7 linked regions of the Homo sapiens genome follow. The protein of the gene in region 5 purifies or fractionates together with the protein of the main gene of each other region. This does not show direct contact. Each region holds a gene or a part of one and is shown on either strand. Other genes may lie near its edges.

Region 1 (3,500 bases), on a different chromosome or scaffold from region 5:
AGACTGTGCCACTGCACTCCAGCCTGGGTGACAGAGATAGACTGTCTCAAAAAAAAGAGGTAAGTAAAAAACGCTTCTTTTGCTTCCTTTTAAGACTGAACACTTTTTCAGTTGTTTAGTTTTGAGGTTTAGTTAAATAGGTTCACTAACTTGAGCTGTAAAAACACTAATGGAACTCCTTTTACTTTGAGTTGTACAACTGTATAATCATTTATATAAGTTAGCTCTTTCAACCAAATACACATTGAGTATCTCTTATCTGAAATGCTTGAGACCAGAAATGTTTCATATTTTGGATTTTTTCAGATTTTGGAATATTTGCGTTACACCACTTGTACATCCCTAATCCTAAAATCCAAAATCTGAAACACTTGCAGAGCATTTTTTTCTTTTCTTTTTTTTTTTTTTTTTTGGTTACGGAGTCTCGCCCTGTCGCCCAGGCTGGAGTGCAGTGGCGCAATCTCGGCTCACTGCAAGCTCCGCCTCCCGGGTTCATGCCATTCTCCTGCCTCAGTCTCCAGAGTAGCTGGGACTGCAGGCGCCCGCCACCACGCCTGGCTAATTTTTTGTATTTTCAGTAGAGACGGGCTTTCACCATGTTAGCCAGGATGGTCGTGATCTCCTGACCTTGTGATCTGCCCGCCTCAGCCTCCCCTGCTGGGATAACAGGCGTGACCCACCGCGCCCGGCCTTGAAGAGCATTTCTTCAAGCATCATGTCAACAATCAAAAAATGTCAGGTTTTGGAGAATTTCAGATTTTGGATTAGGGATGTTTACCCTATAGTGTTTACCCTGTAGTGTTACATCATCTGTTCTATGACAGTCTTAATTTTAACCCCAAATTTTAACAGATTATGAATGAATTTACGCTTCAATATTTCTCTCAATGCTTAGTTAAGTACTGTACATACTCACGTAAGTGTACATAGGAATTTTTTGTTTTTACTAAAGAGAGATCATATTATTTATATTACTCTATGACACGCTTTTTTTTTTTTTTAACATGTCATGGTCAGTAAATATAATTCTTTTTTTTTGTTTGTTTGTTTTTTTTGAGATGGAGTCTTACCCTGTCACCCAGGTGGTGGGAATCTCCGCCTCCTGGGTTCAGTGATTCTCCTGCCTCAGACTTCAGAGTAGCTGGGATTATAGGCACCTGCCACCACACCCAGATAATTTTTGTATTTTTAGTAGAGATGAGGTTTCGCCATGTTGGCCTGGCTGGTATCAAACTCCTGACCTTAAGTGATCTGCCTGCCTTGGCCTCCCAAAGTGCTGGGATTACAGGCATGAGCCACCGCGCCCAGCCAATATAATTCATTTTTGTTTTGTTTTTTTGAGACGGAGTTTTGCTTTTGCTGCCCAGGCTGGAGTGCAATGGCGTGATCTCAGCTCACCGCAACCTCCGCCTCCCAGGTTCAAGTGATTCTCCTGCCTCAGCCTCCCGAGTAGTTGGGATTACAGACATGTGCCACCATGCCCCGCTAAGTTTGTATTTTTAGTAGAGATGGGGTTTCTTTCTTTTTTTTTTTTGAGACGGAGTCTCGCTGTGTTGCCCAGGCTGGAGTGCAGTGGCGCGATCCCAGCTCACTGCAAGTTCTGCCTCCCAGGTTCACGCCATTCTCCTGCGTCAGCCTCCCGAGTAGCTGGGACTACAGGCACCCACCACCACGCCTGGCTAATGTTCTGTATTTTTAGTAGAGATGGGGTTTCACCATGTTAGCCAGGATGGTCTCCATCTCCTGACCTCGTGATCTGCCCACCTTGGCCTCCCAAAGTGCTAGGATTAAAGGCGTGAGCCCCCGCACCCGACCCGAGACGGGGGGGTTTCTCCATGTTGGTCAGGCTGGTTTTGAACTCCCGACCTCACATGATCCTCCCACCTTGGCCTCCCAAAGTGCTAGGATTACAGGTGTGAGCCACCGTGCCTGGCCAATATAATTCTTTTTTTTTTTTTTTTTGAGATGGGGAGTCTTGCTCTATCACCCAGGCTAGAGTGCAGTGGTGCGATCTCGGCTCACTGCAAGCTCCACCTCCTGGGTTCACGCCATTCTCCTGCCTCAGCCTCCCGAGTAGCTGGGACTACAGGCGCCCACCACCACACCCGGCTAATTTTTTTGTATTTTTTTTTTTAGTAGAGACAGAGTTTCACCATGTTAACCAGGATGGTCTTGATCTCCTGACCTCGTGATCCACCTGCCTCGGCCTCCCAAAGTGCTGGGATTACAGGCGTGAGCCACCGTGCCCGGCAATATAATTCTTTATTATTATTTTTTTAAAAGATGACATTTTGCTATGTTGCTCAGGCTGATCTCGAACTCCTGGGCTTGAGCAATCTGCCTGCATCGGCCTCCCAAAGTGCTGGGGTTACAGGCGTGAGCCACCGCACCCAGCCAATATAATTTTTTATTATTATTATTATTATTATTATTTTTAAGATGGAACCTCGCTCTGTCACGAAGGCTGGAGTGCAGTGGCGCAGTCTCGGCTCACTGCATGCTCTGCTTCCTGGGTTCACGCCATTCTCCTGCATCAGCCTCCCGAGTAGCTGGGACTGCAGGCACCTGTCACCACACCCCGCTAATTTTCTGTATTTTTAGTAGAATTGGGTTTCACCATGTTAGCCAGGATGGTCTTGATCTCCTGACTTCATGATCCGCCTACCTTGGCCTCCCAAAGTGCTGGGATTACAGGTGTGAGCCACCGCTCCCAGCCTATTAGTTTTTTAATAAGAGATGAGATATAGCTGTATTGCTCAGGCTGGTCTCAAACTCCTGGACTTGAGCAGTCTGCCTCCTGTGGCCTCCCAAAGTGCTGAGATTACAGGTGTGAGCCACTGCACTCAGCCCACAGTAAATATAATTCTATCTTGTTCCTTTAAACAGTCCTATTGTGTCTTATAGCGTGGATGTACCATAATTTATTATTTTCCTGTGGACATTTAGATCATTTCTAGATTTTTGCCACTTAACAAAGTGCTACAATAAATATCCTTGTACATGCCGCCTTATATGCTGATGCTTTTATTTCTGTAGTCTCCAAAGGGGGAATTCTGGGTTAACAGAGAAATATATTTTAAATATTATTATTGCTAGATTACTCTCTAAATAGGTTATCATAATTTTCATCCCAAATAGCAGTAACTTCTCCATATCATGAAACCACTGGGTATAAATACATAGTTTAATTTTTACTAGTCTGCTAGATGATAAATGGGTCATGCAGTTTGTCTTAATTTTAACTTCCCTGTTACTGGGGCTAGCCTTATTTGATACGTATAATAGCCATTGGATTTCCTTTACCGAGAATTGTCTGCTCATGTCCTTGCTTCATTTTTCTTTCTCTTTTTTTTTCCTCCTGTAGGAGCGCTTATGGAATGTTAATTCTTTGTTATATGGCACGTGTATTTTTCTTGTCTTTCATTTATCCTTTTTTTTTTTCCTGGGAGACAGAGTCTCACCCTTGTCGCCCAGGCTAGAGTGCAGTGGTGTGATCTCGG
Region 2 (3,500 bases), on a different chromosome or scaffold from region 5:
AGATTCTTGCCTGTGCCAACAAACCCATGAAAAACCTGTTTCTTTCTGGTCTGACTTAGACCCATGCCTGGGGTCTCTCTCCATTATGATTCATAGCGAATGAATCACACGTTTTTGTTTACGTGTTTGTTCCCTAGGTTAGCCAGGAAATTTTTTCTGAGCAGTCTTACTCATCTTTGTATCCACATGACCTAATGCCAGGTCTAGTGTCTGGAAGGTGAAGAGTTGAAAAGAATGCTGGAATGAAAGCGTTCCCCTCAGGATAACCTAGTTTTCTTATTTTATTTATTTATTTATTTTTGAGACTGAGTCTTGCTCTGTCGCCCAGGCTGGAGTGCAGTGGCATGATCTCAGCTCACTGCAACCTCCACCTCCCTGGTTCAAGTGACTCTCCTGCCTCGCCTCCTGAGTAGCTGGGATTACAGGCACGCACCACCACACCCAGCTAATTTTTGTATTTTTAGTAGAGACGGGGTTTACCATGTTGGCCAGGATGGTCTCAATCTCCTGACCTTGTGATCCACCCGCCTCGACCTCCCAAAATGCTGGGATTACAGGCGTGAGCTACCATGCCTGGTCAGGATAACCTAGTTTTCTTACTGTCAGGCCTGAGTCTCCGCTGGCTTAATGATGACGTTTAAATTTCCTTTTCTGTCCTTTCAGTTGCAGGGTATAAGTGTTTATCTCAGAATGTCCCAGGGGCAGAAACTAACTTTCTCTGTTTTGATGATGTTGTCTGTTTTTTGTTTGTTTGTTTTTTGAGACAAAGTCTTACTCTGTTGCAGGTTGGAGTACAGTGGCACGATCATGCCTCACTGCAGTCTCAACCCCCTGAGCTCAGGTGATCCTTTTGCCTCAGCCTCTCCAGTAGCTGGGACTACAGGCACACACCACCACGCCTGGCTAATCTTTAAATTTTTAGTAGTGACAGAGTTTTGTCATGTTGCCCAGGCTGGTCTGGAACTCCTGGGCTCAAGAGATCCACCACCTCAGCCTCCCAAAACACTGGGATTACAGGCGTGAGCCACTGGACCAGCCAGAGAATAACCTTCTCTGAACCCTCCTACTTATCCTCATACAGATAGTCCCCGATTATGATGGTGTGACTACAATTTTTGACTTTACGATGGTATGAAAGTGATATGTGTTCAGTAGGAATTGTACTTTTAAAAATTGTTTTAAGACAGATTCTTGGCCGGACACGGTGGCTCATGCCTGTAATCCCAGCACTTTGGGAGGCTGAGGTGGGTGGATCACGAGGTCAAGAGATAGAGACCATCCTGGCTAACATGGTGAAACCCCGTCTCTACTAAAAGTACAAAAAATTAGCCAGGTGTGGTGGCACACACCTGTACTCCCAGCTACTCAGGAGGCTGAGGCAGAAGAATCGCTTGAACCCGGGAGACAGAGGTTGCAGTGAGCCGAGATCACGCCACTGCACTCCAGCCTGGGAGACAGAGCAAGACTCCATCTCAAAAAAAAAAAAAAAGGCAGAGTCTTGTTCTATTACCTACATTAGAGTGCATTGGCATGATATCGGCTCACTGCAACCTCCGCCTCTCAGGCTCAAGCAATCCTCCCACCTCAGTCTCTCAAGTAGCTGGGATTACAGGTGTGCGCCACCACGCCCAGCCTAGAAATTGTACATTGAATTGTGAATTTTGATCTGTTTCTGGGCCAGCGATACGAGGTACATGCTCTCGAGATGCTCAGCAGGGACAGTGAGCTGCAGCTCCCATTTAGCCCCACAAACATGAGGACAAATGGCCAGTCACAAGCTTGTCCAACCCGAGACCCTCAGGCCACATGCACTCTGGACAGCTTTGAATGAGGCCCAATACAAGTCCGTAAACTTCCTTAAAACATTATGAAATTTCTTTCTTTTTTTTTTTTTTTTAAGCTCAGCTGGAGTGCAATGGCACAATCTCGGCTCACTGCAACCTCTGCCTCCCAGGTTCAAGTGATTCTCCTGCCTCAGCCTCCTGAGTAGCTGGGATTACAGGCACGCGCAACCACACCCAGCTAATTTTGTATTTTTAGTAGAAATGGTGTTTCTCTATATTGGTCAGGCTGGTCTCGAACTCCCAAGCTCAGGTGATCCGCCCACCTCGTCCTCCCAAAGTGTTGGGATTACAGGCGTGAGCCACCACACCCAGCCAGTGTTAGTGTATTTTATGTGTAGTCCAAGACAATTCTTCTTCCAGTGTGGCCCAGGGAAGCCAGAAGATTGGACAGCCCACTATAGAGTCTATAGTGTGCTGTGTTGCCAGGTGGTTTTGTCCAACTGTAGGCTAATGTAAGTGTTCTGAGCACATTTAAGGTAGGGAAGGCTAAGCTATAATGTTCAGTAGGTTAGGTGTACTAAATACTTTTTTTTTTTTTTTTTTTTTGAGTTGGAGTGTTGCTCTATCGCCCAGGCTGGAGTGCAGTGGTGCAATCTCTGCTCACTACAGCCTCTGCCTCCCAGGTTCAAGCCATTCTCCTGCCTCAGCCTCTTGAGTAGCTGGGATTATAGGCGTGTGCCACCACACCCAGCTAATTTGTATTTTTAGTAGAGATGGGGTTTCACCATGTTGGCCAGGCTGGTCTCAAACTCCTGACCTCAAGTGATCTGCCCGCCTCAGCCTCCCAAAGTGCTGGAATTACAGGCGTGAGCCACTGCACCTGGCCCTAAATGCATTTTTGACTTAAGATATTTTCTATGTATGGTGGATTTATTGGGACATACTTCATTTTAAGTCAAGGAACATTTGTATTAAACAGTATTGCTGGTATTTCTTGTCCCAATATTACCGAACAGGGAGTGGATGTGACTTTTTTTCTTTTTTTTAAAAAGCAAAAACAAAAAACTTTTAACAGATAGGGCCTCACCTCTGTGGCCCAGGCTGGAGTGTCTATGGGCTGAAGTACAGTGGCGCGATCACCACTCACTGTAACTTTGAGCTCCTGGGCTCAAGCAATCTTCCTGCCTCAGCTTCCCGAGTAGCTGGGACCACAGGCACATGCTACCACACCTGGCTAATTTTTATTTTTTGTAGAGATGAGGTCTATGTTGCCCAGGCTGGTCTTGAACTCCTGGCCTCAGGCAATCCTCCTGCCTCAACCTCCCAAAGCATTGGGATTACAGATGTGAGCCACTGCATCTGGCAACTTTTTCTTACACTGAACAAGCCAGTATTGGGGCCGGGGTCTCAGACACTGTGACTGATGCTGTTTATTTACCTGTTTGCATCCAGCATTGCTGACAAGGCAAGAGTAAGTAACTGCTGCTCACTGACATTTGGGTATGCACAGCAAAGGGCTCCATGTAATCTGATGGTTATGCCCATGAAAGCTCATTAAGAGAGCTCAGATACTAGGCCCAGAGGATCAGGGCTTCTTAGGTGTGCAGGGACACTTGGTGAAAATGGTTGTATCAGTTAGCTATTGCTATATAACAAGCCATCCCCAAACAGTAACTAAACAGCAGCGATTTGTTATTGTTCTCCATCTTTTGGGTT
Region 3 (3,500 bases), on a different chromosome or scaffold from region 5:
TGCAGCCTCGACCTCCTGGGCTCAAGTGATCCTCCCACCTCAGCCTCCCAAGTAGCTGGGACTACAGGCATGCGCCACCATGCCGTGCTAATTTGTGTGTGTGTGTGTGTGTGTGTGTGTGTGTGTGAGAGAGAGAGAGAGAGACAGGGTCTCCCTATGTTGCCCAGGTTGGTCTTGAACTCCTGGGCTCAACCAATCCTCCTTTGGGAGCCTTGGCCTCCCAAAGTGCTAGGATTACAGGTGTGAACTTCCCGCCCATGAACTAACATCTTTTTTTTTTTTTTTTTTTTTGAGACAGAGTCTCACTCTCTGTCCCAGGCTGGAGTCCAGTGGCACAATCTCAGCCCACTGCAACCTCCACCTCCTGGGTTCAAGTGATTCTCCTGCTTCAGCCCTCTGTTACAGGTACACACCACCATGCTTGGCTGATTTTGGTATTTCTAGTAGAGACGGGGGTTTCACCATATTGGTCAGGCTGGTCTCGAACTCCTGACCTCAGGTGATCCACCCTCCTCAGCCTCCCAAAGTGCCAAGATTATAGGCGTGAGCCACCACGCCCAGCCAAAAATAATAGCTTTATTGAGGCGTAATTCACCTACCATACAATTCAGCCACCTAAAGTGTACACTTCAGCGGTTTTTAGTATATTCACAGAATTGCGCAACCATTGCCACCATCAATGTTGGAGCATTTTCATCAGCCCGGAAAGAAATCCTCTACTCCTTAGTAGTCGCTCCTGTTTCCTCCTAGTCCCTCCTAAATCTAGGCAACCACTGAACATTTTGTCTAATTGCAAAAGTAATGTGTGCACAGGCCAGGCGTGGTGGCTCACGCCTGTAATCTCAGCACTTTGGGAGGCTGAGGAGGGCGGATTGCTTGAGCTGGGGAGTTCAAGACCAGCGTGGGCAACATGGCAAAGCCCCGTCTCTAGTAAAAATACAAAAAATTAGCCGGGCATTGTCGTATGCGCCTGTGGTTCCAGCTAATTGGGAGGCTGAGTTGGAAGGATTGCCTGAGCAAAAGTAACACATGTACAAACAATTTAGGAGGGTAAAATAAAACATGAAAACACCCTCCATCTTTCTCCGTTAAATCCCACTTCCCAGAAGAAGTCACTTAAGTGTGGTGTGTCACCATTTCCAAACCTACCTCTCTCTGTACATGCTCATAATAGCTTGGTTTATAAAAACAGATTTTTTTTTTTTTTTTGAGATGGCGTCTCACTCAGGCTGGAGTGCAGTGGCAAGATCTCAGCTCACTACAACCTCCGCCTCCCAGGTTCAAGCAATTCTCCTGCCTCAGCCTCCTGAGTAGCTGGGATTACAGGCGTGCACCACCATGCCCGGCTAATTTTGGTATTTTTAGTAGAGACAGGGTTTCACCATGTTGGCCAGGCTGGTCTTGAACTCCTGACCTCAGGTGATCCACCCACCTCGACCTCCCAAAGTTCTGGGATTACAGGCATGAGCCACCACGCCCAACCTATAAAAAGAGATATTACTCTATGCTTCTGTGGTTTGATTTTTTTCACTTGGTAAATTGGTGGACATCTTTCTGTGTCAGAACACACAAGACTACCTCATTCTTTTCTTGGTGAGTTCGTTTCTGTGCATGGATGGTTTGTCTACCCAGCCCTCTGTGAATGGGCATTTGGGTTGTTTCCACTATTTTGCTAGTATTCACAGTGCTGCTTGAACCTGCTGGTACAAACCCTCTGTAATATTCCAGTATCAGAGAGGCCCTGAAATGGAACTCCTGGGTCACCTTTTTTTTTTTTTTTTGATACAGAGTCTCATTTTGTTGCCCAGGCTAGAGTTCAGTGGCATGATCTCGGCTCATTGCAACCTCCGCCTCCTGGGTTCAAGCAATTCTCCTGTCTCAGCCTCCTGAGTAGCTGGGACTACAGGTGCCCACCACCACACCTGGCTAATTTTTGTATCTTTAGTAGAGATGGGGTTTTACCATATTGGTCAAGTTGGTCTCGAACTCTTGACCTCAGGTGATACATCTGCCTCAGCCTGCCAAATTGCTGAGATTATAGGCGTGAGCCACCATGCCCTGCCTGGGTCACCTTTTGATAGATGGACACATAGCCTTTAAGAAGGCAGCAGGCGTTTGACACTCTCCTGCTAAGATGGACCTTAGCATTGAGCATTTTCATCCTTTTGACAACCAGATATGAGAAGAAGGGTGTCTTAATTATTTATTGAGCAAAACAAATAATGCTTCTTTCCAAAGTGATTTTAAAAACTTACCTCTCTGCTGGGCGCGGTGACTCACGCTTGTAATTCCAGCGCTTTGGGAGACAGGCAGGCAGATCACCTGAGGTCAAGAGTTTGAGACCAGCCTGGCAAACATGATGAAACCACGTCTCTACTAAAAAATTAGCCGGGCCTGGTGGTGCGTGCCTGTAGTCCCAGCTACTTGGGAGGCTGCGGCACAAGAATCGCTTGAACCCGGGAGGTGGAGGTTGCAGTGAGACGAGATCGCACCATTGCACTCCAGCCTGGGTGACAGAGTGAGACTCTGTCTCAAAAAAAAAAAAAATCTACCTCTCAACATTTGGGAAGTGGCTGTAGATGCCAAGAGTGAAGGGATGGAGGGGTTCCACCTTCTGCCACCCCTCACCCTGCTGTGTGGCTTCCTCTTTGCTCCCCTGGACTTTGCAGAGAGACCAGGCTGGCCGGAAGCAGTGCCTGGGCCTGGGCCGCTGCCCTTAGCCAAGGTCCGGGTCAGCCCCTGGGGGCGAAGTGTCTGGGGATGATGCTGTCTCTCTGTTGGGTCTTATATAACATGCTTTTGTTGGCTTTGACCCTGCCTTCCCCTCCATCCAGCCTCCTCTAGTCCCCCTGACTCTGTTCCTTTTCCACTGCTGGGGCCTGAGTGCCGGCCTCGCCTACTCAGAGCTGCTCCAGCCTCCTCGGAGCCTCTAGTCCTTCCCACACACGCTGCCAAAGGGACCTTTCTAAACCCACGCGGGGCCATGGCTGCCCTCCCTGCTGTCCAAGGAGTGAAGCGGAAAAACAGGACTAGGAACCACTCACCCGCCGTCCTGCGATAACCACTTCATCCTCTGGGAGTACTTCCCATCTGTGTCGATCATTACACTTTACCGGGACCATGACTCAAGTTTGTGTCTTGCTTCTTTCACTACATGATCTATAGTAAACATCTCTCCCAGGTCATTAAAACCTCCCTGGAAGCATCCCCAAAGGCTGCATTTTATTCCATTTGAGGACAGAGGGTCACTTTCCCAGCTTTTTCCCTAATGCTGGACATGAGGTTGTTTCTCACATGTTGGTTTGTAGGGGCAAACAGAGCCACTGTGTGTGTTTCTTTTCTGGCTCCAGTCAACTTCCCTGTCGAAGACCGATTCATCTCCCAGCCCAACTCTTCCCGTGCTCTGCTTCCGCCAACCTGGGCATTTAGAGGGAGGCTCCTTCCTGCCATCTCTGAGCATCGTTCGGGGCTAGTGGGCTTGAAGGGGCTGCCTGTGTACT
Region 4 (3,500 bases), on a different chromosome or scaffold from region 5:
ATACAAGTTAAAATCTTCTCTGGTTCTGTTTACAATATCCAGTGAGCTGCACAGTCCCGTTGATTGTTTTGGTAATAGTTTTATCTTTTCTTCCTGTTGCCTGTCCCTCTTACCACATCTGCCTTGGGTTACCACATCCCCATCCATCATCACACTGCTGCATGGTGCCTGGCTTATAGTAGGGTTCAGTTCACAGAATGTCCGCTCTGATTTGAGCTAGAGCAGTGACCTTAGAAAGTCACTGAATTAAAATGTGTAGAGCTCTACAAGTAATCAGATTAAATTCATCAAGCATATGTTGAAACCTACTGTGAACAATTTTTGGGAGATCAAAAAATGAATTAAAGGTGTGACACTTCCAAGAAGTGAGCCTGGTGAATAATTGGTGCTCAACAAGTCCTAGGGAAATTATAAGATGCAAGCACTATGCCAACAGGAGTATATTTTAAAAATTATTCTGCTTAGCAAGCCATTTGCATGTTTTCTGGAACTGATCTTTCAGATTGGTTGATAGCTCCAACTGAGTCTTTGAATTTGGTCAGTTGCTACATATGCCTGTTAGTTGATATCAAATCCTGCTAAAATTATTTTCACTGTATGTTGTAAGTTCCTTTGATAATAGTGCTTAAGTGTTAGTTGCTCAAAATGAATGATTAATTGCCTTAGACTTGTAAATCTGTATATGTAACCTCATGTAAGAATTGTATATACAACCTAGGCCAGGCATGGTGGCTCACGATGTTTGTAAACTCTTACTTGCTCATGATGTTTTATCAATCTTAATATGGCTAGTGCTAGTAACACTCAGGATAGCTTATTTGAGCACAGTAAATCTCTGTCAGGCTAATGAAAGGGGAGAGTAGCTCAGAGTCCAAAATAAATACTCCAAAAATGGATCTTTTTTAGCTTGGAGCGCATTTAGTAGATTTAACCTGTCAAGTGTCTTGTTAGGTCAGTTGAAACAATGGTTTTAATTGTTAGCCTGGTGGCTGGGCCGTGGGAGAGACACTTGCTAATATGTTGAGTGGTGGATGGAAATAAGCCCAGGATTATAACTTAGTCAGAGGGATCTTTGAAACAGGTTACACTGGAGAGGTGTCCACTGACTCTATGTGTGTGCTGCATTCCAGGCTTTTCTGAATAAACTGTGTGGAAGAAATATTTTCCTGATGGTTGCCAGTCATTTGACAATTTAAAGTTTCGGCAAGACTAAGTCTTTAAAGCCAAAATGACCTGTAGCGTTCTAGGTCCTTAGGATGGTGCCTACTACCTGGTGTGGAATCTTTGGTATTTCCCTGCTTCCATTGACAGACTTGTCCCAGTGTACTTCTGTCAACAGATGAGTACTTTTTATGTTATTTTTTTATGGTGATAAAACACAGTAAAATTAAATACACCTGAAGTTCTTTGCCAAATAAAGCACACTTTGAGCACATTGATTTATTTATGTATTTCTCTCCACCTTTATTGACACATAAAAATTGCATATATTGGCTGGGTGTGGTGGCTTACGCCTGTAATTCCAACACTTTGGGAGGCTGAGGCACGTGGATCACCTGAGGTTGGGGGTTCGAGACCAGTCTGACCAACATGAAGAAACCCCATCTCTACTAAAAATACAAAATTAGCTGGGCGTGGTGGCACATGCCTGTAATCCCAGCTACTCAGGAGGCTGAGGCAGGAGAATTGCTTGAATCCGGGAGGCAGAGGTTGTGGTGAGGTGAGATCGCACCATCACACTCCAGCCTGGATGACAAGAGCAAAACTGCGTGTCAGAAGAAAAAAGAAATGCATATATTTAAGGTGTACCACATAATGTTTTGATATATAAAAGGTCCTTATCCTTTTTTTTTCTTTTGAGACAGAGTCTCACTTTGTCACTCAGGCTGGAGTGCAGTGGCGTGATCTTGGCTCACTGCAAACTCTGCCTCCTGGGTTCAAGTGATTCTCCTGCCTCAGCCTCCCAAGTAGCTGGGACTACAGGCACCCGCCACCTTGCCCTGTTGGCCAGGCTGATTTTGAACTCCTGACCTCAGGTGATCTGCCCTCCTTGGCCTCCCAAAGTGCTGGGATTATAGACATGAGCCACTGTGCCCGGCCCTTGCCCATTTTTTAATTGGGTTATTTGTTTTTTTGTTGTTGAGTTGTATGAGTTCCTTTTATATTTTGGATAATAACATCTTGTCAGACAGATGGTCTGCAAATATTTTCTCCCATTCTGTAGGTTGCCTTTTCATTTTGTTGCTTGTTTCTTTGTTACATAGAAACATTTTAGTTGCATGTAGTCCCACTTACTTATTTTTGCTTTTATTGCTGGTCTTCTTGGTGTCACATAAAAAATCATTGCCAAGACTAATGTCATGGAGCTTTTCTCCTATGTTTTTTTCTAGGAGTCTTGGTGTTTCAGGGCTAACATTTAAGTCTTTAATCAGCTTTTAGTTGACTTTTGTGTGTGTTGTAAGATAAAGATCCAATTTCATTTTTTTGCACATGGATATCCAGTTTTCCCACCACCATTTATTGACAAGACTGTGCTTTCCCATTGTTTGGTCTTGGTCAAAGATTAGTTGGCCAGACATGTGTGGGTTTATTTCTGGGCTTTCTATTGTTTTCCATTGGTCTATGTATGTGTTTCTATGCTGATACAACACTGTTGTGATGACTGTAGCTTTGTAATATAATTTGAAATTACAAAGTAGGCTGCTTCCAGGTTTGTTCTTGCAAAATTGCTGTAGCTACTTGGGGTCTTTTGCTGTTCCATCCAAATTTTACAATTTTTTTTTCTATTTTTGTGAAAAATGCCATTGGAGTTTTGATAGAAATTGCATTGAATCTGCAGAACACTTTGGGTGGTATGGGCTTTTTAACAATATTAATTCTCTCAATTTATGAACATGGGATATCTTTCCATTTATTTGTGTAATCTTCAGTTTTTTTAATCACTGCTTTATAGTTTTCAGCATACTGATCGTTCCTCTCCTTGTTAAATTTATTCCTAAGTAGTTTATTCTTTTTCATTCTATTCTAAATAGAATTGTTTTCTTAATTTTTTTTTGGATAGTTCATTGTTAGTGTATAGAAGCACAATTGATTTTTGTATGTTGATTTTGTATCTTGTAATTTTGCTGAATTTATTCTAATGGTTTTCTGGTGGAGTCTTTAGGATTTTCTATATATAAGATCATGTCATCTGCAAAAAGAGACAATTTTACGTATTTTTTATTTGGATACCTTTTATTTCTTTCACTTTCCTAATTCACACTTTGAGCATGTTTAAAAGGTATTTCATAAAAAATGTATATGAGGGCCGGGCGCAGTGGCTCATGCCTGTAATCCCAGCACTCTGGGAGGCTGAGGCGGGTGGATCACCTGAGGTCAGGAGTTTGAGACCAGCCTGACCAACATGGTGAAACCCTGTGTCTGCTAAAATACAAAATTAGCCGGGCATGGTGGCAGGCACCTGTAATCCCAGCTACTTGGGAGGCTGAGGCAGGAGAGTC
Region 5 (3,500 bases):
CTCTTGAGAATCAAGCGAGGTGGTGTCTGGAGCTAGCCACTCAGTGCTGTTATTTTTACAGTCGTGGTTTACCCAGGGGCTCTCCTCTGGGGGCTAGAAGATACTTGAGGCCCAGCTTCATGGGGAGCTCCCCTTTGCCCCAGACGCCATGTTGCAAACCCTTGAGAAGGATCCTGGACAGAGGCCCTTGCTTTTCATCTGGAATTCTGAGTGCTGCAACCTTGCAACTTTGGTCCAGTTAGAATTGGATCGGAAGCTAGTCAGGCAGCAGGCGAGCCCCAGTTACTCCCAGATAACCTCCTGCATTGCTGTGGTTTCTGGAGCTTTCTGTAGGGTGGGCAGTGGGAGCCAGGGTAGGTGGGGTAGGCCCGCCCCTGCGAGTGTCTTCGGCACCCTCCCTTCCACCCCGCCCTGCGCGCGGTGCTCTGCGCCGACAGCCCGCCAACCTCTTAGCCCCAGGCCCAGGCCCTGGTGGAGGGGAGAGCTGGGAGGGCTGAGCTGGTCCAGGTGGCAGAGCCACTCTTGGAGCCCCAGCTGGGGTGGGTCCAGGGCCTGTGCTCCTGATTCCCATCTGGAGTAGCCTCCCAGAGCTGCTTCTGGGCTGGTGGTGTGGCAGTGCCATCCTTCATGTATTTGGGTTCTCTCCACAGAGGGACCATCTGTGTTCTCTCCACCCCTGTCTTTGAAAACAAAGATGATACCACGCTGTACATCTTAGTCTGCAATCTGCCATCTTCACGTGACAGTCTCTCAAGATCTTTATATATGAGAGACATATTTTCCTTTTTAATATCTTCACTGTATCTCTTAGGAGATCTGTGATTTTTTTTTTCCCAATCCGCCATCATTTACTCAGAGTCAGCATTAAAAAAATTTAAAATTTGTGAGAGGACAACTATGTCTGATAAAGCATGTCATGGAAGGCTGGGCACAGCAGCTCACACCTGTAATCCCAGCACTTGGGGAGACCGAGGCAGGCAGATCATGAGGTCAAGAGATCGAGACCATCCTGGCCAACATGGTGAAACCCTGTCTCTACTAAAAATACAAAAATTATGGTGGCGGGTGCCTGTAGTTCCAGCTACTCTGGAGGCTGAGGCAGGAGAATCGCTTAAACCTGGGAGCCACTGCACTCCAGCCTGGCAGCAAAGCGAGACTCTGTCTCCAAAAACAAAAAGAAACAAAAAAGAAAAAAGCCTGTCATGGAATGGGCTCCTGCCCTGTCCCCGGCCCCTGCTTTTTTTTTTTTTTTTTTTTGAAAAACAGGAATATTAGTGTAGGGTTTGGGAATTAGGCTGTAATTTGTTCCTAAGGGGGCATGGGTTAAAGCAAGTTGAGAAATACTGGCTTGAGATGTTGGGCCAGGGAGTGCAGAAGCCAACACCGCTCTGCCCGGGTGTGCACCAGGGCTCAGTGCGTGCTCTGCCCGGGTCTGCACTGGGCCCTGCTGCGCCCTGGCCCTGGGGCCACTTGGACTTTGGCTGCCTCACTCTTTCATTACCCAAGTATCTACTGAGTATCCACCATGAGTTCTGGGGGCAGAACTGTGTTCAAAGCAGGTGGAAATCTCTGCCTCCGTGGGGTGGACATAGATGGGTTATGGGGACTCCAGTCTCTGAGTGGGTGGGGAGGGCAGCGTGCCTTTTGTAATTCCAGCTACCAAGCCTGGAGCAACTGCTGTTTTTCTGGAATCTGTTTTTTCAATCTGTGCCCCAGTTCCTCCTTCATAATGGGTGGGAGTAGGGATAGTTGATGATAGCAAGTGCTTCCCATTTGTTATTAGAGGCTGTTCCTTTCCTTCGACTCCCAGTTCCCCTCCCTTGGAGGCAGGCAGGGCTCCAGGATCATGACTTCTCTTCTGGAGATGTTTGTGCCTATGTGAGCATGTGTCTGCAGAAGTTCATTATTTTCTAACTTAGGAGCACAGAACTGTATACTGTTCTTCACCTTCCTTAATTTTGAAATTTTTTATAAAGGCGTGGTCTTCTTATGTTGTCTAGGCTGGTCTGGAATTCCTGGGCTCAAGCAGTCCTCCAGCCTCTGCCTCCTAAATTGCAGGGATTACATGAGTGAGCTACCTTGCCCATCCCTGCACCTTCCTTTTTCTCTTAAGAAGTCTCAGATCATCCCAAGTCAGCATACAGACCTGCCTCAATCTTTCCCCCAGCTGCAGAATGTCTCATTGCACAGATGCCTCACAGGCATTCTACCTCACGACAGCCTGTGTATTAAACACTGCTGTGATATTTCATCAAATCGAAGGCGCTGTCATTGGGGAGGCACCCTGTTTCATATAGTGCCAAGAAAAAGGCGTGCCCAGTTAAATCAAGACAGACCCCAACTGTGAGATTAATCTGCATTCCAGCAGTGTCAAAATGTGGAAGAGGGTGCGTTGTGGGATGGATGGAAATAGAAGTAGTTTCGCGTGGTACACCAGGAAACGAGACTGGGGAGGAATACAGCCCAGCAGGGTGTCCCGGCTTGGATTTTGAAGCCCAGTCCCAGCCACACTTGTTCCCTGCCTGACCTTGGGTAGGGGCCCCAGTGTCTCAGGAACACAGGAGCAGTGACACTTGCCCTGGGGCGGGGGCCATCCTGGAAGATGCTGTGAAGGGCTGGCTGCACTCCCTGTGGCTTATTTAAATCACTGGGATTTGCGTGATTACACTCTCTGAATTTTCTCATTCTTAGTGAACATTTTATTTTTCTTGTTGGTCATATGAGTATTTTCTAGATACAAGCAAAATACACGGGGGGTTCAAAATGCGTTGGGTTGAAACACCTAATTGCAGTGTGGTCAAAAATGGGGGATGTGGACAATTTGGTGTAATTCAGCCTAATATATTTTTCATTTTGGTCTCTGGTCATTTTCACTTATTAGACAGAACAGTTTGTAAGTATCCAAAGAAAATTATTTTGTTTTTTTTTTAGCTGATTGCAGTGGTATGATCATGGCTCACTGCAGCCTCCACCTCCTGGGCTCAAGCAGTTCTCCCACCTTAGCCCCCTGAGTAGCTGAGACCACAGGCATGTGCCCCCACACCTGGCTAATTTTTTATCTTTGGTCTCTACAAAGTGGGTATCCATGTTGCCTAGGCTGGTCTCAAACTTCCGGATGCAAGCCATCGTCCCGTCTCAGTCTCCCAAAGTGCCAGGATTGCAGGTGTGAGCCACCGAGCCCAGCTCAAAGACAGTTCTTTCTCAGCAAGTTCTAAACCATGAGTGACAGAACTAGTTTATTGTTCTTTATTTTATTATTATTATTATTATTATTATTATTATTATTATTTTATTATTATTTTGGGATGGAGTCTCGCACTGTTGTCCAGGCTGGAGTGCAGTGGCGCGATCTCGGCTCACTGCAACCTCCGCCTCCCGGGTTCAAATGATCCTCTTGCCTCAGCCTCCCGAGTAGCTGGGATTACAGGCGCCCGTCACCACGCCCGGCTAATTTTTTGTATTTTTAGTAGAGACTGGGTTTTACTATGTTGGCCAGGCTG
Region 6 (3,500 bases), on a different chromosome or scaffold from region 5:
TGGCCCACAGACCCTGAGGTGTTTCCTTGGTGGCTCTTCACAGAATGTTTGCTGCCCCTAGTATAGAGGGTAGAGCCTCCTGGGTAGGGCTGTCCTGTGGCTCACTGTTTTTTGTAGGCCAGGTACCCCCTTGACACCTGACATCTGCCTCAGTCCCCTCACAGTTCAGCCTTCAAACTTGAGTCCTCTGTGTCATATGCCTAGACCCCCCACTTCTGAGGAGAAAGCCTCAGCTTTCTCCTTTCACGATCCCTTCTCTCTCGGTGAATGGCCAGTGGGTTGGGCTCTCTTGCCCCCACCCATGTTGGCATTGCTTGCCTTTTAGGTACCCATGGGACGGCTCCTGTTTCTCCCATTCTGAGAGCATCTGCTTATAATTCTAGGGCCTGTGTTTGGAAGCAAAGATAACTTCCACGGCTTAGCCATCTTCCTGGACACCTACCCCAATGATGAGACCACTGAGGTAGGCCCCTGCTCTATCCTGCTGAGCAGGAAAGGAAGGACTGGGCAGTCGGCTAGAGGAGGGGGCCCTGGGACTTCCATGGTCCCAGCACAAGAGGAGCCTCCAGGGATTGGGGTGGTGGGTGCCCCTGCTCGCCCCACAGGCTGGGCTGCTTGTGGAGTAACCGATGTCTTGGTCCCAGCGCGTGTTCCCGTACATCTCGGTGATGGTGAACAATGGCTCCCTGTCCTACGACCACAGCAAGGATGGGCGCTGGACCGAGCTGGCGGGCTGCACGGCTGACTTCCGCAACCGCGATCACGACACCTTCCTGGCTGTGCGCTACTCCCGGGGCCGTCTGACGGTGAGCAGGCTAGGCGGTGGGGGTGGCAGCTGGTGGCCCTGTGCTGGTCCCACAGAGGCTCAGGAGGGCAGGCTGCTGTCCTGCGAGGTGCTTAGCGTGCTGGGCCCTGCAGGTGATGACCGACCTGGAGGACAAGAACGAGTGGAAGAACTGCATTGACATCACGGGAGTGCGCCTGCCCACCGGCTACTACTTCGGGGCCTCCGCCGGCACCGGCGACCTGTCTGGTGAGTGGGCCGGGCCAGGCGTTGGTTCCCAGCCCAGCTCACCCTGAGGGACTGGGAGCTTTCCATGCAGTTGATTGCCTGCCTTCATGTGGTTTCTGAGCTCACCTGGCTGTGTTCCTCCTCCTCCTTTCTTCTGTAAATGGCCTGTCCGGGCCTCAGTTCCTGTGGTTTCTGGGCTCACCTGGCTGTGTTCCTCCTCCTCCTTTCTTCTGTAAATGGCCTGTCCGGGCCTCAGTTCCTGTGGTTTCTGAGCTCACCTGGCTGTGTTCCTCCTCCTCCTTTCTTCTGTAAATGGCCTGTCCGGGCCTCAGGCCTTGAACGGTCCCTTGGCAACCTTCCCCATCAACAGGAGGCAGCGGGTCAGTTAGATTTGGGCAATGTAGATTCCCAGATTTATCTCCAGCCCAGACCGCTCTGGACCTGCTCAGCCCTTGTGCCCACAGCTGAGGCCACATCTTGCCCATCGGGATGTCAGTGGCACCTGTGCCCCTCTATTTGCTTGCTGTCTTTCCGGACCCTTCTTTCTCTCACATGGCACCTCTGGTCCATCAACAGTCCCTGTGGCTTTATTTTCACAGCACGTCTCACCACTTCCCTCCCCTCCCTGACTACCTGGCGGCTTCAGGCCACCAGTGTCTCTCACAGGAGTCTCCCAAGTGGTCCCCTCCTTCACCAGCCCCCAACAGTCTCTCGTGAGCACAGCAGCCGTGTAATCGCCTTCAGTAATCGCCTTCAGCCCGTGTGAGGCCTCCTGCTGCTCTGCGCAGAGCTCTGCAGGGGGCGCCAGGGCCTCTGTGCCAGCCCTGCCACCTCTGGCTCCCTGCTCACTGCTCCCCCTGCCTACTGTGGCTTCCAGCTGCTGCCTGGATGCGCCTGTGCCCTCCTGCCCCGGCTGTTTCACCCTTGTCTCCTAGGGCCTTGCTCAGATGTTACCTCCTCAGTGCGGCCTTCCCTGATGCCCTCGTGGAATGTCGTGCCCCCTCCTGTGTCCCCAGCCCACTCCCCAGCATCTTTGCTGGCTTTATTTTTCTTCATAATATTTACCATCTTTGAGTCTACCGAGTAATTAATTTTATTGTCTCTGGCCCTCCTGCTCAATTGTAAGCTCTATAAATGGCTGTTTGGCCCAGGGCAGGTGCTCAGCGAGCACTGGGGTGCCTCTAACCTGCTCAGGCCTCACTGGTCACCAGGCCGTGGTGGCCCTTGGCTGTGGTTCTCGGTTTCTCTTTGGGGCCCTGAGCAGGTGCCAGGCCCAGGGCCAGCTCCTGACCAGAACTGGCACGTGACACGGGGGACCTGACATGGGCGGTTTATCCTCAGGATGACCCATTCCAGGGCCTGTAGTCTGCCCACTGCCCAGGAGCCTCCTCTCTCAGCATGGAAGTGCTTGGGTCCGCTCAGACCCCAGAACATCCATTGTTTGGGGGTTTTTCAGTCACATACCCAGCAGAGGAGAGAGGTCTGGTAAGCACCCTTCCTGCCAACCAGCTTTCATCATTTCCAGCTCGCGCCTGGCTGGTTTCCCTCCTGCCCCGGGTTGCCTGGAACTTCATCACACTGTTTCAGCCCTTGTCTTTGGAGGGTTCTTGATAGGAGCAGAGCAGCACCAGTGCTGTGGCCGGTGGCAGCTCTCACAGCTGTTGGGAGAGCCCAGCACAGAGTGGAGGAGGCACCATGAGGGGAGCCGTGTCTGACCACTGGTCAGGGGTCATCAGTGCCAGGCACCTTACGGGTGATGTCACCTGATGTATTTTTAGGCAGATGGCCATCTCGTTCCCTTTTTACTCAACCATTGGGAGTTTGAAAACTGAAAGGATTTTTCCTAAGATACGAGCAGGAAGCAGCAGAGCCCAGATGGGAACTGGGGCCTGACTCCAGGGCCGGTCCTTGTCCTGCAGGGCCGCTCGCCGTCTCCAAGGGCTGTGCATGCTCGGCTCTCACACTGTGTGCCTGGCCGAGCTCTTGCTCATTAGGTCCCCCCTTGGCTCCAGAGATTCCTGCTCCCTTCAACAAGGCCTTTCCTCAGATTCCAGTCCCAGGCTGACCAGGACCCACGTGTCGGCTTTGAGCCTCAGCCTCCTCATCTCTACAATTGGGTGATCCATCAGCGTCAAGCCAGGGCTCTTCCCTGTGCATGCCATTGGACAGAGCCTTTCCCCAGTCTCCTCAGGCACAGCTGCTGACCTGCGTTAGGCTCAGGCCCTTAGCTGGTTGCCGAGTTGTTCCCCTGCAGCCTGTATGTGGGTCTCTGTGGCAAGAATGTCTGGTGGCTCCTGCCCTTGGGACCTCAGCCTTCTCAGCCAGTCACACAGCGACTGTTGGTCTTTCCCGGGTCTGTTTTTGAGCACTTATTCTGCAGGCAGGCCATCTTCTGTGTGGTGTAGACCCTTCTCATGTACTTGCCATGGCAACCACACAGATGGAGATCATCACTCCTCTACATGTGCGGAACATGAGCCTCAAAGAG
Region 7 (3,500 bases), on a different chromosome or scaffold from region 5:
TAAAACTCATTTTGTTAGCACTCGGGAAGACCAGTTCCAGCACCAAAGTAATTTTTATTCAAACTATTTGCAGTTGTTGTCATTTAATTTTTATTTACAGGTTTCATAATGTTACCAGGGCTGATGTTTATGGGACCCAAACTAAATTTTGACTATTTTCTATCTACTTGTTATGTGACTCTCCGTTTTTGTTTTTTTTTTCAATGGGGAAAGGACAGGAGGCATCCTCTGAATGTACTGCTTTTATAGGCTAAAATTTCCTACTACTTTTAACTTTCTTACTTATAAGCCAAAACCCTACTTTTCCAACGAGCCATGCCAGGAACCAGCCTTCTATCTACTCTTTTAAATTACACCCCTTCCTTGTGCCTCTGTGGTCTACTACTTTTGAAGAAATTGGTACCATTCCCTCCCTGCTATAATTTGCTCTACAGTTGCACTGTTTAGTAGTGTAGTCACTAGCCACATGTGGCTATTTAAATTATTTAAAATTAAAAATTCAGTTTGTTAGCTGAATGAATTACCACATTTCAAATGCTCAGTAGCCACATCTGACTAGTGGCCACCTTATTGAGTAGCACAGATACAGAACATTTCCATCATTGCAGAAAACTCTGTTGGGCAGTGTTACTCTTAGATAGTGAAACAGGGCTATAAAGTTATTTTTATGGCCTTTTTCTTGAAATGTTGTTTAGTTATTCTGGTCTTTTCAGGCAAGTCGGTATTTGAGATGAAGCTTTAGAAAAAAGTTACACCTGGATCCCTCATTTATTGAATATTATACTGCATTCCTTGATATGGCCAGGAGTAGAATTCTTTAGTTTCTAAGGGGAGGGAGAAATGGTAACACTACCTGATTTTTTTCTTTTTTTTTTTTTTAGAGGGGCAAGGATTCTCTTGATACTTTGGCCTGAGTCAGGGCAAGGCAGGGAGGGACTTAGCTTTTAGCTATGTGCCATCAATAGCTTGGAGTGTAAAAGGGATATGGGAGTAGGAGATGCAGAGGATTGTGGTTTAAAAAGGAAGATAACTCGAGGTCACACCTCACTTGTATTTCAGTAAGCTTTTACTGCACTTGATTAAACCAAGTTGCTGTGAGGAATGCAAATATGAGGTCAGGGTGCACGTATTCAGGCAGCTTAGAGTCCATTGAAGCTGGTACATAAGACTGAAAATTAACAAGGATTTGAATGAAGGTGCATTTACTGAACTTTATTTCTACTACACGCCAGCTATTGTGCGAGGGCCTGGGAAAACAGCTGTGAATAAAACAGGTTAAGTCCTTCCTCTTCTGGCATTCACAGCTGAGTGGCAGACAGGCCAGCTAATGGTTTAGGCTTTTAAATTGGTCGGTATTTCCTTAATTTGCAGGTATTTTTTCTGCTTTTTATGTATTTTGTAATTATGAAAAGTATGCATTCTTATTTTTTTAAATGTGGAAAATAATAGAAGAAAAGGAAATTTAGTGTTAGTGCAGTGGTTTATTTTGCACTGTTACACTGTTACTTAAGAAAAGGTAGAACCTTATTAAAGGCATTTTCTATAACAAGCTCCGCCCATGGCCCAGGGAGCAGCTCTTAAAGTAGTTTAACAATTTGGTTAGAATAAAAGCAGAACAGCTGATGCTTTTTTATGTTTCTGACCTATTTTCATAACAAAAGTACCCACTCTGCTGGGCGCAGTGACTCATGCCTGTAATCTCAGCACTTTGGGAGGTGGAGGTGGGCAGATCACGAGGTCAAGAGATCGAGACCATCCTGGCCAACCAACATGGTGCAACCCCATCTCTACTAAAATTAACTGGGCATAGTGGCACACGCCTGCAGTTCCAGCTACTCGGGAGGCTGAGGCAGGAGAATCGCTTGAATCTGGGAGGCAGAGGTTGCAGTGAGCTGAGATCACGCCACTGCACTCCAGCCTGGGTGACAGAGCGAGACTCCGCCTCAAAAAAATAAAAAATAAAAAGTACCCACCCTGTAGCTCAAACATCTGCCAGTCCTGAGGTTGTGATGGCTCTGCCTCCTTCCCTGGACCTTAGGATTGGGAGGAATAAGCCTCTGAGAGACAGACTGCCCTTTTTCCCAAGAATGGAATCTCTGCTCACTAGGGTAAGGGGTACACTAGGTGAGGTCCACATGCCAGTGCTCATGGCTGTTGAATGTCCTGGAAATATGGCAGCTAAATGGAATTATTAAATGCTCAGAAGTATTTAGCTATACCGTAATATCTTAATGACCTCCAGTAGGCTCTTGGAAACTACAGCTTTAAGCAAAACAACATACACCAGGTCCTCAAATAACGTCATTTCTTTCAATGTAGTTTTGTTATAACATTGAGAAAAAAAAATACTGGTTTTGGTATATGTCATTTTGTTTTAAGTCACAGGCTCCAAGAACTGATTGACAATGTTAAGTGTGGACTTACTGTACTGCATCTTCTCTGTGATATTTTAGCAGTGTGGCATGGAGGTGGGCCTATGGGTTGGCGTACAGAGGAAAGAAGGACCTCCGTGCAAGCAGTCTGAGTGGGAGGGTTTCTGTCCGTTACTAATCATCCTTATTCTTCAGTGTTGCTGCTGAAGGTGCTGTGACACATATGCTGTGCTTCTAACACGCTTCCCTTCAAGAGGGAGAACGTGCTCCAATGTTATAAATATAAAAAGATAGTAATAATATTGACAGTTAAGACATAATTATTGGTGAGTTGCCATTTAGAAATCTTTAGAATCATGAGATTATACAAGTGGATTTAATATTTTTTTCCAGAGAATTATTGAAACGTGGATGCCCAGATCTGTAATTAAACATGTATTGTTATGTTAGACTAAGAAAACAAGTACCTGTGGGATCAAAACCTGCTATTGGAATAGATGAAGGGACTGGGGAAGTCTAAGAAAAGGACTTTTATTTGTAATTTATTCTTTTTTGTCCTTTTTTTTAAGTTTTTGATTTATTCTTTTTTAGAAAACAATCTGAAGCAAAGGTGCCAAAATATTAGCATTTAATTCTGGGTCACACGTACTTACGGATTATTCTCTGTACTTTTATGTATTTTAAAACTTTTTTCCAACTAGAAAAACTGTCAAAAACCTTGTGTAAATATTAGCCTGAATCCAATCCCTTATTAATAATAATGAAAAATATTCTGAAGAAAAAGAATTGGGTTATACAGTGAAGTACTCAGTGTTGGTTCTTTCATTATGGCGACTGTAATCTGATTTTTAATTGGTGATTGTCTTTTGCCACCAGTGGTTCTCTTCTTTTTTCCCACCCTGGTCAACCTGAGTGATTCTGCATATGCCTATCTGTAGCATTTCCTCTCTGAGCTGCTGGGGAGGTAGAAAAAATGTGCAGTTAAGAAAAAATATCTCAGGAGAGTCTGAGGATTCTCAGCAAATGTTTACACAAGCAAATGTTTAACAAGTTGCAAGTTATACTTTCTCTAAACCACTTTTTTCATTTTTGGCATCTTTCTATCTAGGGCACCAGAACTAGCACCTC

Evidence for each region.
Region 1: the proteins of AKT2 (region 5) and AP1G1 purify together in Homo sapiens (affinity purification with mass spectrometry; one large-scale study listed by BioGRID and IntAct). This does not show direct contact.
Region 2: the proteins of AKT2 (region 5) and EIF4EBP1 fractionate together in Homo sapiens (co-fractionation; one large-scale study listed by BioGRID). This does not show direct contact.
Region 3: the proteins of AKT2 (region 5) and NIBAN2 fractionate together in Homo sapiens (co-fractionation; one large-scale study listed by BioGRID). This does not show direct contact.
Region 4: the proteins of AKT2 (region 5) and ERO1A fractionate together in Homo sapiens (co-fractionation; one large-scale study listed by BioGRID). This does not show direct contact.
Region 6: the proteins of AKT2 (region 5) and LMAN2 purify together in Homo sapiens (affinity purification with mass spectrometry; one study listed by BioGRID and IntAct). This does not show direct contact.
Region 7: the proteins of AKT2 (region 5) and DSTN purify together in Homo sapiens (affinity purification with mass spectrometry; one study listed by BioGRID and IntAct). This does not show direct contact.

The regions. Positions count from the first base shown.
Region 1 is NC_000016.10:71,798,835-71,802,334, reverse strand, and holds part of AP1G1 (AP-1 complex subunit gamma-1), read left to right. Parts: intron 1-3,500. UniProt on the Homo sapiens protein: Subunit of clathrin-associated adaptor protein complex 1 that plays a role in protein sorting in the late-Golgi/trans-Golgi network (TGN) and/or endosomes.
Region 2 is NC_000008.11:38,037,034-38,040,533, forward strand, and holds part of EIF4EBP1 (eukaryotic translation initiation factor 4E-binding protein 1), read left to right. Parts: intron 1-3,500. UniProt on the Homo sapiens protein: Repressor of translation initiation that regulates EIF4E activity by preventing its assembly into the eIF4F complex: hypophosphorylated form competes with EIF4G1/EIF4G3 and strongly binds to EIF4E, leading to repress translation.
Region 3 is NC_000009.12:127,562,574-127,566,073, reverse strand, and holds part of NIBAN2 (protein Niban 2), read left to right. Parts: intron 1-3,500. UniProt on the Homo sapiens protein: May play a role in apoptosis suppression. May promote melanoma cell invasion in vitro.
Region 4 is NC_000014.9:52,689,059-52,692,558, reverse strand, and holds part of ERO1A (ERO1-like protein alpha isoform 2 precursor), read left to right. Parts: intron 1-3,500. UniProt on the Homo sapiens protein: Oxidoreductase involved in disulfide bond formation in the endoplasmic reticulum. Efficiently reoxidizes P4HB/PDI, the enzyme catalyzing protein disulfide formation, in order to allow P4HB to sustain additional rounds of disulfide formation.
Region 5 is NC_000019.10:40,243,846-40,247,345, reverse strand, and holds part of AKT2 (RAC-beta serine/threonine-protein kinase), read left to right. Parts: intron 1-3,500. UniProt on the Homo sapiens protein: Serine/threonine kinase closely related to AKT1 and AKT3. All 3 enzymes, AKT1, AKT2 and AKT3, are collectively known as AKT kinase.
Region 6 is NC_000005.10:177,334,669-177,338,168, reverse strand, and holds part of LMAN2 (vesicular integral-membrane protein VIP36 precursor), read left to right. Parts: intron 1-383; coding exon 384-463; intron 464-644; coding exon 645-806; intron 807-918; coding exon 919-1,033; intron 1,034-3,500. UniProt on the Homo sapiens protein: Plays a role as an intracellular lectin in the early secretory pathway. Interacts with N-acetyl-D-galactosamine and high-mannose type glycans and may also bind to O-linked glycans.
Region 7 is NC_000020.11:17,601,075-17,604,574, forward strand, and holds part of DSTN (destrin), read left to right. Parts: intron 1-3,480; coding exon 3,481-3,500. UniProt on the Homo sapiens protein: Actin-depolymerizing protein. Severs actin filaments (F-actin) and binds to actin monomers (G-actin). Acts in a pH-independent manner.